2 separate regions of the Homo sapiens genome follow, and region 1 is linked to region 2. The links come from fine-mapping of genetic effects on gene expression. A gene starts in region 2. The other region holds a variant in brackets. All regions are shown on one strand. Distances are between the middles of the regions.

Region 1 (5,366 bases), 35 kb after region 2:
AAATTAGCCGGATGTTGTGGCGGACACCTGTAGTCCCAGCTACTCTGGAGGCTGAGGCAGGAGAATGGCGTGAACCTAGGAGGCGGGGCTTGCAGTGAGACGAGATCGCGCCATTGTACTCCGGCCTGGGCGACAAAGTGAGACTCCATCTCAAAAAAAAAAAAAAACAAAAAACATGTTGTACACCTTGGCCGGGTGCAGTGGCTCATTCCTGTAATCCCAACACTGAAAGGCCGAGGCGGGTGGATCACTTGAGCTCAGGAGTTCAAGACCAGCCTGGCCAAAATGGCAAAACCCCATCTCCACCAAAAATACAAAAGTTAGCTGGGCGTGGTGGCGTGTGCCTGTGGTCCCAGCTACTCGGAAGGCTGAGGCAGAAGATCGCTTGAGCCCAGGAGGCAGAGGCTGCAGTGAGCTGAGATCGTGCCACTGCACTCCAGCCTGAGTGACAGGGCAAGACTCTGTCTCCAAAAAAAAAAAAAAAATTTTGTACACCTTAAATACATACTACTTTGTTAATCACACCTCAATAAAGCTGGGGAAAAAAATGGGAGGGAGTGGGCTGGGCCAGGGGAAAGGACACCTCAGCTTCCCAAAACAGCTGTTGCTACCCAGATTTCTAGCTGATGGTTATGTCGAAACCATTGGAGAAGCCAGTGAAAAGGCTATAGGGGACCCAGGCTAAGGGAGCCAAAGCCTTAGCCTGCACGAAAGCCACCAACAACTGGAAGGAAGGGCTGAGACAGTGCCCGGTGTCTTCCCAAAGGATCCAGCAGCCTCCAAGGCTGGAAGGCAGCAAGCACTGAGAGCAGAGAACTAACAACACAACTCAAGTGACGGAGACCAGACATAGTGCTGCACAAAGCCACCACGGTCTCTCTACAGGGCCCAGCAGGCCTGAACCACACAGTTAGGTCTTAGATCACACACGCACACACTCCCACTCTCACTCTGTCTCTCTCTCACTCTGAAGGATTCTGAGTGAGCAGCCGAGACACAGAGCAGGTGGGCATCCTTAACATTCAAGGCAAGAAAGGCCTAATTATCAGCTCCAAAGTAGCCCTCTGCTGAAAACGAGAGAACGCTGCGGAGTTGGGAAGACCAGCTACGGTGAAGGTGACCCCTCTAAGCAACTGTAGCCCCAAATGAGCTGTTTGTCCTGTACTAAGGTCACTGTCAACTCCTTACCCAGGCCCCATCTTGCTTGTTGGGGGCTCTGGAGTAATCAAAGCTCCAGTGCCTCTACCTGCTATTCTGGAAATGGGGTGTGAGGTTTGTAAACACTGCTGCACCCTGCATCCAAGATTGTGGGCTGGGCCAAAATACAAGTCAGAAGATTCTAGATTCAGCAGACATTAAGCTGGAACTCTTCTTGGTTATTGAAGGAAGACTTGTCACCTTTTAGCTCGATACTTTTGGAGGACTTGAAGGGCACCAGGAAACTGCCGACATCTTGCCCAACTCCCAGTGAAGTGCACCCCAGCTGTTTCCTCTTGCCAGACAGCAAGGAACTGGCCCGTCTTCAGAGGAAGCTGTAAGCCAGGAGGGAAGAAGGGACCCTGTGGAGGACTCCTGCCATCTCCTTTCAGCTAAGGGGTTAGCAGTCAAGCATGCCCACCCAGGCACTGAGAGACAAACCCCTGGCCCTTTAGCAGGGCTGACGAACTACAGCCTCTGAGTCAGGATCCCCTGGCTGCCTTTTCTGCCCCTTAGGGTCTGGCACGATTATTGACATAGGAGTAAATCAGGGGCCCACTTAGAAACCTCCCTTCTCCATGTTCATATGAAGGTGGTGTGAACAGGAAAGGAAAAAAAAGAAAGAAACCTTTTTTCTAATGCCTTTAAAAAGGCATGCCAACAGCTCACTGGCTCAAGTCCAGAAAGAGACACACTTCCCTGCCGCCCAGAACTGTGCATGGGTCTGACTGATACATCCCATGAGAAAACAAGTGCCCACAAGACCCCAATTCAACCTTTCCCCAGAGCCAGGAGGGCACACTTCCTAAAACTGCTACTGCCTCTGAAGACATTGCAGCCCATTTCACAATTCCTGGGACAAGCTCTGCTTTTCTGTTCCTCTTTCAAAACAGGATAGGAGGTAGCCTCGTGATCAGAGAAATGCAAACTCCAAGATTTCCCACTAACAGAGCTCAGATCCCTTCCTGCTTGTGAGAGTGGAGAGAGGCTGAGACTGGGGGACTGCAAGCCTAATCATTCCTTGTCTGTGTCCGGCACGAGAGTGATGTTGTTCACCCCTCTTCATGGTACTTCTCTTTCTCTTCTGCCACTGGAAACAGCAGGATGCTTTCCCCTTTTATACTCCCTGCATCCAACAGACTTCTTCTGCTCAAATCTGTTTTATTCCTAAAAATCCAGATACAGGGCTTATAAATTAGGAAGCCCTGGTGAAACTCACTCACTGTTATAACACAGGAAATTTAGAATACTCAACTATGGGCAGAGACACCAACAAAGCCAAACGATGGTGTGTTTGTGTGTTTTTAAGTTATTCTCACTAATTCTTCCATGCAGGGACTTCTCACAATGTTTACAGGCCTGTGAAAATATTGACACAAAACTTGACTTTCAGGCCGGGCATGGTGGCTTACGCCTGTAATCCTAGCACTGTGGGAGGCCAAGACAGGCAGATCGCTTGAGCTCACAAGTTCAAGAACAGCTTGGGCAACATAGTGAAACCTCATCTCTCCAAAAAAAAAAATAATAATTAGCCAGGCATGGTGGCGCACACTTGTAGTCCTAGCTACCTGGAAGGCTGAGGCAAGAGGATCACTTGAACCCAGGAGGTCAAGGCTGCAGTGAGCTGAGATCACTCCACTGCACTCCAGCCCGGGTGACAAAGTGAGACCCTGTTTCAAAAAAAAAAAACTTGGCAGGGCGCGGTGGCTCACGCCTGTAATCCCAGCACTTTGGGAGGCCGAGATGGGCAGATGACCTGAGGTCAGGAGTTCCAGACCAGCCTGCCTAGGCAACATGGTGAAACCCTGTCTCTATTGAAAAACACAAAAATTTGCTGGGCGTGGTGACGGACACCTGTAATCCCAGCTACTTGGGAGACTGAGGCAGTAGAATTGCTGGAACCCAGTAGGTGGAGGTTGCAGTGAGCCAAGATCACGCCACTGCACTCCAGTCTGGGTGACAAGAGCAAAACTCTGTCTCAAAAAAAAAAAAAAAAA[A/C]AAAAAAAACCCAGAAACAAACACACAAAAAACTTGTTTTTCATTCCCCAAATCTAGTATCATTTTCTTGAAGCCCTGGCATTCTTTTGGCCAAAACAAGAAAAGCAGGTAGGGCGAAGGAAACTCTTCCCATGCCCAGATCTACAAACAGCCAGTTGAGGTCAGTGAATCTGACACCTGATCAAGGCCATCTTCTGCCATTACCCACTTCCTCCCTTCCCAGCACGTCTTCAGTGCAATGCCCACCATCCAGGGTGCACAACAAGGAAGGGGACCTTCTTTCTGACTTACCATATATGGAGAGTTCTGGAAAGGTTTACCTTTGATTGATTATGTTTGGCACTCCCTTTCCTGCCTTGCTAAAGATTCAGTGCAATCATAGAACACCCTCTTTTGGATAGAGGGCTGGAAATTCTGAATAATACCCAGCCTGAAGCCCAGTGGTTCGGTAGCTCACGTCACTGGAGTGAGACTCTTGGAACACGCCATCCCATAAGGTGTCCATTAGGTGCCAAGAAACAGGCTTGCTGGCTTTTTCTAGATTTTAAATGTCAAAGTAGTTTCCCGCGATGTTATTTTAAATGAACATCCCTGAAATGGAAACAGTTATGTATATGGTAGCCCTCAAGCCTCCAGGAAGTCCCTAAGCTCACCCAGAGAAAAGCCATTATCTACCTGTGGCAAGTCAAGCAGGGGAGCAGATGCTATGGTTTGAAGGGATCCCCTCTAAAACCCCAGTTTTGCCAATGTGATAGTATTAAGAGGTAGGGCCTCTAAGAGGTGATTAGGCCAGGAGGTGATTAGGCCACATCCTCCCTCATGAATGTGATTGGGTGCCCTTATAAAGCGACTTGATGAAGGGAGTTTGTCCTTCTTGCCCTTCCACCACATGAGAACACAGTGTTCAAGGTGCCATGTTGGAAGCAGAGAGCAGCCCTCACCAGCAACATTGCCAGTGCCCTGATCCTGGACTTCCTAGCCTCCAGAACGGTGAGAAAATAATCTTTTTCTTTATAAATTATCTGGTCTCAGGTATTCTGTAATATCAGCGTGAGATGGACTAAGATAGCAGGTCTGAGGGAAGAAGGGTAAGGAAGGAACAGGCCACTCTAGAAACGCAAGGTGGTGATATTTGTACACCTAAAAATGGTTACAGTGGGGGGTGGGAGAGATCCTACCTGCACTCTTTGATTACTTGATGGATGTCAAACTCAAAGGCTGCCAACAAGATGTTGTCCAGGGGTTCTGGGCTGCTCTCACCTCCCAGAAACAGGTCCAGGCTGGACTGTGGAAAGGTGATGAGACACTCAATCCTGAGGACGGAAGCAGAGACTCGGGGCAGGCAGGGCTGCTGTATAACGAACCCCAGAGAAGGTGCCTTGTTCTTTCACTAAGGGCCAAAGGAAAGGGTCTTCCTGTTCCTCAGGGAGGAATTCAAAGAGAATGACCCATCAGGGCGCCCCCAGGACTCCTACCCCCACCCTTGCCCACCCCGAGCTCACTCACCTGGGCATAGTAGTGCAGATCAATGGGTTTTACTGTGGGATTGGAGTACAAGAGCCGAGTCACTAGGAAATGATACCAATTACTCAGAAGTTCCTTCTGCTCTAACAAGGCAGCTTCGTCTCCCAGCATAATCTGAGGAGAGACATTTGTGCTGAACTCTGTCCTCCTCTCAGGGGTACCTTCTCCATAATGCTCCTGCTCTCAGCTAAGGGCACCGGATTTCAACTAGTCTGAAAGCTCTCGCCATCACGGCAGAGCGACAGACAGCCCTATCCAAGGAGGACCAAGCTCCTGCCACTGCTGCACTGGATGCCACAGCCCCCATAGGAAGCCAACATGGATGCAATCTGAACTGCTTCCCAGACCTTCAAGAGAGACTCCAGGTGAGGGCTGGTGGCGAATGTGCTGTCCTGGAGGTACCGCTCACATTCCTCGTGCCAGTGCTGCCACTTCAGCTCCAGCTCTGTCAGTGTCTGGGTGTTCCCGGGCTAAGGGAGAGACCAGCCATGAGACGTCATCCCATCCACACCCTTTATATTTAGTGAATCACGCATCTCCTGTGACCCAGCAGAGCAAAGCTACCCCCACGTACACTAAGAATGGGCATTGTCCTCATCAGGTCCCCCATGATTCGGCATATGCCTGCAGAGGCGGGGCTGGCATCGG
Region 2 (5,320 bases):
GCGAGACTTCGTCTCAAAAAAAAAGAAAAAGAAAAAGAAGAAAAGCACTGGCCATTTTCCCTCCTAAATGGTAGTCCTACCAAGTTGTTATAAGAACCAAATAGGAAAAGCCCCATTAGCTGGGGTGACTAATCCACCTCAGACCATAGGTACCTAAAAACAAGACCCCTTCAGTCTTCAGACACAGCAAAACCCTGTCTCTACTAAAAATACAAAAAAATTAGCTGGGCATGGTGGCGGCCACCTGTAATCCCAGCTACTTGGGGTGGGCAGGGACTGAGACAGGAGAATCTCTTGAACCCGGGAGGCGGAGGCTGCAGTGAGCCGAGAGCTGAGATTACAGCACTGCACTCCAGTCTGGGCAACAAAAGCGAAACTCCATCTCAAAAAAAAAAAAAAAAGTTAAAAACAAAAAGACCCTATACAAACAGTTAAAGAAAACCAAAAACAAGACCCCGTGTCCAAAAATCATTTGTCAGGCCCTCACTATGCGTCAGTACCATGCCAGACACGAGAGTGCAGACAATAATGAAGTCCCTACCCCATGGAGTTGATATTGAAAAAGGAGAACACAAGAAAACTCAGGACAATAAAATATAATTAAATGCTATGAAAGAGATACCTAGTACTGTTCAGCAAACACTGATGAAGCATCAGTTATCGGTCAAGCACTATGCCAAACACTGGCATACAAAGACAGGATATGAATAGTCCCTCGCCATGAGAATTTTACAGGTTAGGACACACAGGATGCTTGACAGAAGAAGGCGAAGGGAGGTGGGCTCCCAGATGTCACTTAGATACTTCTTCACTCTCTTCCACCTTCTGCCTATAATTTTTACGCTACAGGACTCAGATGAGTGGACCGTAACAGTCTCAATTCTTTTTTTTTTTTTTTTTTTGAGATGGCGTCTTGCTCTGTTGCCAGGCTGGAGTGCGGTGGTGTGCTCTCGGCTCACTGCAACCTCTGCATCCTGGGTTCAAGCGATTCTCCTGCTTCAGCCTCCCAAGTAGCTGGGACTACTGGTATGTGCCACCACACCTGGCTAATTTTGTATTGTTAGTAGAAACAGGGTTTCTCCTTGTTGATCTCGAACTCCCCACCTCAGGTAATCCATCCACCTCGGCCTCCCAAAGTGCTGGGATTACAGGTGTGAGCCACCGTGCCCAGCCGTTTTTTTTTTTTTTTTTTCTGAGACAAGGTTTCTCTCTCTTGCCCAGGCTGGAATGCAGGGGCGTAATCATAACTCACTGCAGCCTTGACCTCCTGGACTCAAGTGATCCTCCTACCTCAGCCTCCTGAGTAGTTGGGAGCACAGATGCACACCACCACACCTGGCTAATTTTTTTGTTTTTTTTGTAGAGACGGGATCTCCCTATGTTGCCCTGCTGTCTCTTAACTCCTGAGCTCAAGCTATCCTGCATTAGGCTCCCAAAGTGCTGAGATTACAGGTGCAATCCCACTGCACCAGCTAGAAAGCTATCAATCTTGACCCAACTCCCAAGCACCACCTATCTTGTTTCACATGTGGAGGGCCCTGCTTTCTTGCCCTGGCCATTCATTCACCTGGTAGAAACGGCCTCCCTTGAGGATGGGTACCAGCCCAATCATAGGCTCACAGTTTTTCAGTGCTTGATGGAAGATGGTGTAGGGGTTGCGTTCGATGGTTGCCTGTTCCTCTGCAGAAGCGGCATGGTACTTCTCAAACTGCTTCCTTTTCACAGCTTCCAGAGTCTGCAAAAGAATATGGTGGAAGAGGCTGCCCCAGGCTCCCTAAAGGGTTTACCCAGCCAAGCTAGTACCTTGCCCTTTACTCCCATCCTCTGGTTCTGCGCTGGCAATGCAGCTCCTCTCACAGCACATCCAAAACAAAGTTTTTAAGTGCCTCCCCCTTTGCTAGACTAGGACAGAAAGAGTGGATTGAGATTTGTGGCATGGAGGGGGTGGGGGGTGAGGTGGGGAATGGCAGTTGTTTTATTTTTTATTTGTTCCTTTTTTTTTAATTGTGTGTTTACTTCCGAAACACCAAGGAATGGCAGTTGCTGACTCTTACAGGGCTTCATTAAAGCCCGTACACATGCAGGGAAGTTAATCTGAATAATAGATACATGAATCCATTTGCTCTTAAGCTACACTGAAAGTACCAAGTACAAGGCTACGGGGTAGGGGGGCAAGAAAGATGACTGAGGAGGGAAGTGCTGTTTACCTGAATCATGAGGGATCTGGCCAGTACTTTGTTTCCTCCTATCATCATCATGTTGGTGAATTTACTTCAAAGAGAAAAGCAACACGTTTAGCTCTCCAAGGCTGTATCACAGAATCCTCACCAGAAACCCTCCCTGGGATAGTCCCAGTCCATGTAACAAGTGTTTGTTTCCATCTAACCTGATGACTGGGTCTTCAAACACAGAACTTGTTTTCCCTGCTGGAGCAGCTTTGATGAGCTGAGTCTTCTTGAGCTCCCGAACATATTTCTCCTCCTCAGTTAGCTCCTCCACTGGCTTGCGATAATATTCCTTGTCAATCAAGGGATCCTTGAATTCAGGACTATAGCGGCTCCATCTCACCTGAGTTAGCCTGGGAGGGGGGGAAAGGAGGAGGCAGGCAAAAGCTGACTCCACAAGCGAGTAGGTTTGACTTAACAATAGGCATGACTGCCAACGCGCCGACGAGGGGGAGCGGCGCGGAGACCGCGAGCTAAACCTGAGCCACAACAATTCAGGCCCTTGTCCCAAGTAGGAGGACATTCCCCAAGCAGGCGGGTAAAGTCTCCTCCTGGTCAAGTGCTAACGGTAAGGATGGGCTTGGCGCCTACACACCCATCCCAATTCACAGGCGATCCCAGATCTGAGCTCTTTAGCTGAACCGCACTTTCAGCTCCGCGTTAGAACCCTAGATCAGCCAGACTCCTTAGGCGAGAGGTAGTCACTAAACCTTCGGATTGGCGCAGGGTCACGCAGCTAACTTAGAAGCTTGAATCCAGATACTCCGGCCCCCAGGGCAATGCTCTCTCTAGGGGCCCACGCGGCCTGCCTGTGGCCCCCTTCCTTCCTCGCAGCGCCCCCCCGCCGCTGCTCGCCACCCTCTCACCCTGGAAGCTGCAAGACAGCCCGCCGCACGCCCAACGCCAGGCCCGACCATCCTCGGGCAACCTTCACTGCGGGGGCAGCCATCTTGGCTGGCCACGAGGACCCCACAAGGACTGCCCTCGGCGCGCCTGAGCGAGTGACGGGAAACGGGTGAAAAAGACTCCTCAGGGTCCTAAATCTGCGTTTCTCTCCACTGATCTGGACGTTAGAGTTTTTCACTCCGGGGTCCAAAGGGGAGCGCCAAAAGGAAACCCTTGCCCTCCCTGTATCCGTCGCAGTCTGGCGCGGCCCTCGGTGACGGCACTCACTCCTCTCAGGACCCCATGCAGGCCCCGCCCCGTCTCAGCTCGTGCAGACTCTCGCGAGTTTTGAAGCCGCGGGGCCGGGCGGCTGCAATATGGCGGAGGCGGAAGGGGAAAGCCTGGAGTCCTGGCTCAGTGAGTAGCCGCGGCCGTTTCTGCCTGCCCTCGAGCCGCTGGGCTGCCCCTGTCTTCACCCCCACGTCCCCTCCCCGGGCTCCACGGCGTCGCCTCTTGGCAGCCCACGCCCGGTCTCGCCCTCGCCGCGAGCAGCCTGCGATCACGCCCCTTCCCTATCAGGGCGCCGGGCCCCAGTCCGGCCCCCGCTTCCCTCGCTGCGGCGCGTCCTCTTGCTCTGGCGCGCGGCGGCGTGAACTCGGGCTCCTGTCGGGCACCGCAGGCTCGGGGAAAGGCGACAGCCAAGATCTTCGGGCTGACATGCTTCGGCGCTTTGGGGAGATTGTGGTGGGGTCGCCGCCCGGCGGTGACACCAGGAACCCAGCGCCCCAATCCCTGACTAAGGGAGAAGCTTCGGATTGGGGCTGAGTCTCCGGTAGTGGTGGGTGCTGCCGACTGCGTTCAGTCGCCTGGCAGCTTCAGAATTGTGACCATGTGTTGGAGAAGTGACGGCTTCGCTCAGGCAGAATGCTTGAAGTGAGAATAATATTCCAAAGAGAGCGATGATAGAGAACAGAGAGCTCTACCTTTTTCCTGCAGTGACCACAGAAGCATGGTGAAATCGGTGTCGGGAATTCCCCCCCCACACACATACATATACCCCCTTGAATATCCTAACGAGTCAGTGTTGATAGCCTATTCTGAGTAAGGCTGAGGAGCACAGTCTGAAGCTGTAGTTATAGAAGCGTATTGCTGTCATTGCACTGTGAATTACAGTGCTACGAAGGAAATGTGTGTTAACCTGGTTAGCAGGTAGTACTCTGCCTGAGGGTTAATAAGTGAACTTTCCTGTAGGCTAGACCTGGAAGCCTCCTTTAAGTGGAGAGAGAAATTGGACTGGTAATGGGATAGGTGAGATACCTAGTATTGCCTTGTTCTGAGGTCTCTTATTTAGTACTGCTTCCGGGATCTTGGAGGTGATAGCTATTTCCTCAAATTGTCTGATTTTTCCTAGTAAGAAACCCCCTTCAGGAGGTTGAGCTTCAGTTTAAAGGGGAGCATATCCCAAAAGAGAGAAAAAGTAAGATCACGTTTGCAAAATCTGCAGTTGCAGGCAGGTCATAAGGCTTCTTTATATATGGAAGTGTTCTCCAAGGAGCTCAAAGTACTTTACAGATATTCATTAAATTAGTTTACCAAGTATTCTAGCAAAGCAGGCACTACTGCCATAATTTCACAAAAAGAGGACATCCTGACTCCAGTCAAACCACTTGCCCAGAAATGCCCAACTTGCTATAACCAGAGTGGAATTAGTTTGCTTTGAAGGTATTAATATGGGTATTGAATAATTTAAATGACCTAAGCTGAGTTTAATAGGCTACATTTAGAGTTACATTTTGTTTTTGTTACTTGTTTTTGAGACAGAGTCTCGCGCGCTGTTGTCTAGGCTGGAGTGCAGGGGTGCGATCATAGCTCACTGCAGCCTTGAACCCCTGTGCTCAAATAAGTCTTCTACCTCAGCCTCCTGAGTAGCTGGGACTATAGGCACACGCCACCATGCTTGGCTAATTCTTTTGATTTTTAGTAGAGATGAGGTCTTGCTGTGTTGCCCAGGATGGTCTCAAACTCGAGTTCAAGTGATCCTCCCACCTTTCCCTTACAAAGCGCTGGGATTACACACGTGAGCTACCGCACCCAGCCTAGAGTCACATTATGAAATGAGAGGGACACACTTGGTGGGGGGGAGTCACATGGTATCTGTAGAGACATAAGCTTCACAGTTGTTACGACTTAATGTGAACTGTACCAGTTGA

Which allele goes with the higher level. Alleles are on the strand shown, and positions count from the first base shown. SD is a standard deviation of normalised expression in the study named.
In carriers of allele A in region 1, the expression in memory regulatory T cells of the gene that starts at base 3,196 in region 2 tends to be lower than with C alone (large effect, 1.1 SD a copy in Schmiedel 2018).

Evidence for each region. PIP is the estimated chance that this variant, and not a neighbour inherited with it, causes the effect.
Region 1: its variant is the best candidate, but not a certain one, in a credible set for the expression of MRPS7 in memory regulatory T cells (Schmiedel 2018, PIP 0.74).

Annotation. Positions count from the first base shown.
Region 1 is chr17:75,225,164-75,230,529 of GRCh38, reverse strand. It overlaps NUP85 (nucleoporin 85), which reads right to left. Exons shown (of 19, transcript NM_024844.5): 8 at 5,293-5,366; 9 at 5,066-5,188; 10 at 4,701-4,832; 11 at 4,373-4,479. Among named protein-coding and RNA genes, the nearest start is that of NUP85, 22 kb to the right of the region's middle. RefSeq lists enhancers at 3,876-5,075, 5,339-5,366. The variant A/C (reference allele first, on the strand shown) is at 3,195.
Region 2 is chr17:75,259,755-75,265,074 of GRCh38, reverse strand. MRPS7 (mitochondrial ribosomal protein S7) reads right to left here and starts at 3,196. Exons shown (of 5, transcript NM_015971.4): 1 at 3,092-3,196; 2 at 2,387-2,578; 3 at 2,208-2,271; 4 at 1,568-1,735. The coding sequence starts at 3,174. It overlaps GGA3 (golgi associated, gamma adaptin ear containing, ARF binding protein 3), which reads left to right and starts at 3,469. Exons shown (of 17, transcript NM_138619.4): 1 at 3,469-3,527. The coding sequence starts at 3,488. RefSeq lists enhancers at 2,410-3,287, 3,084-3,493, 3,964-4,063.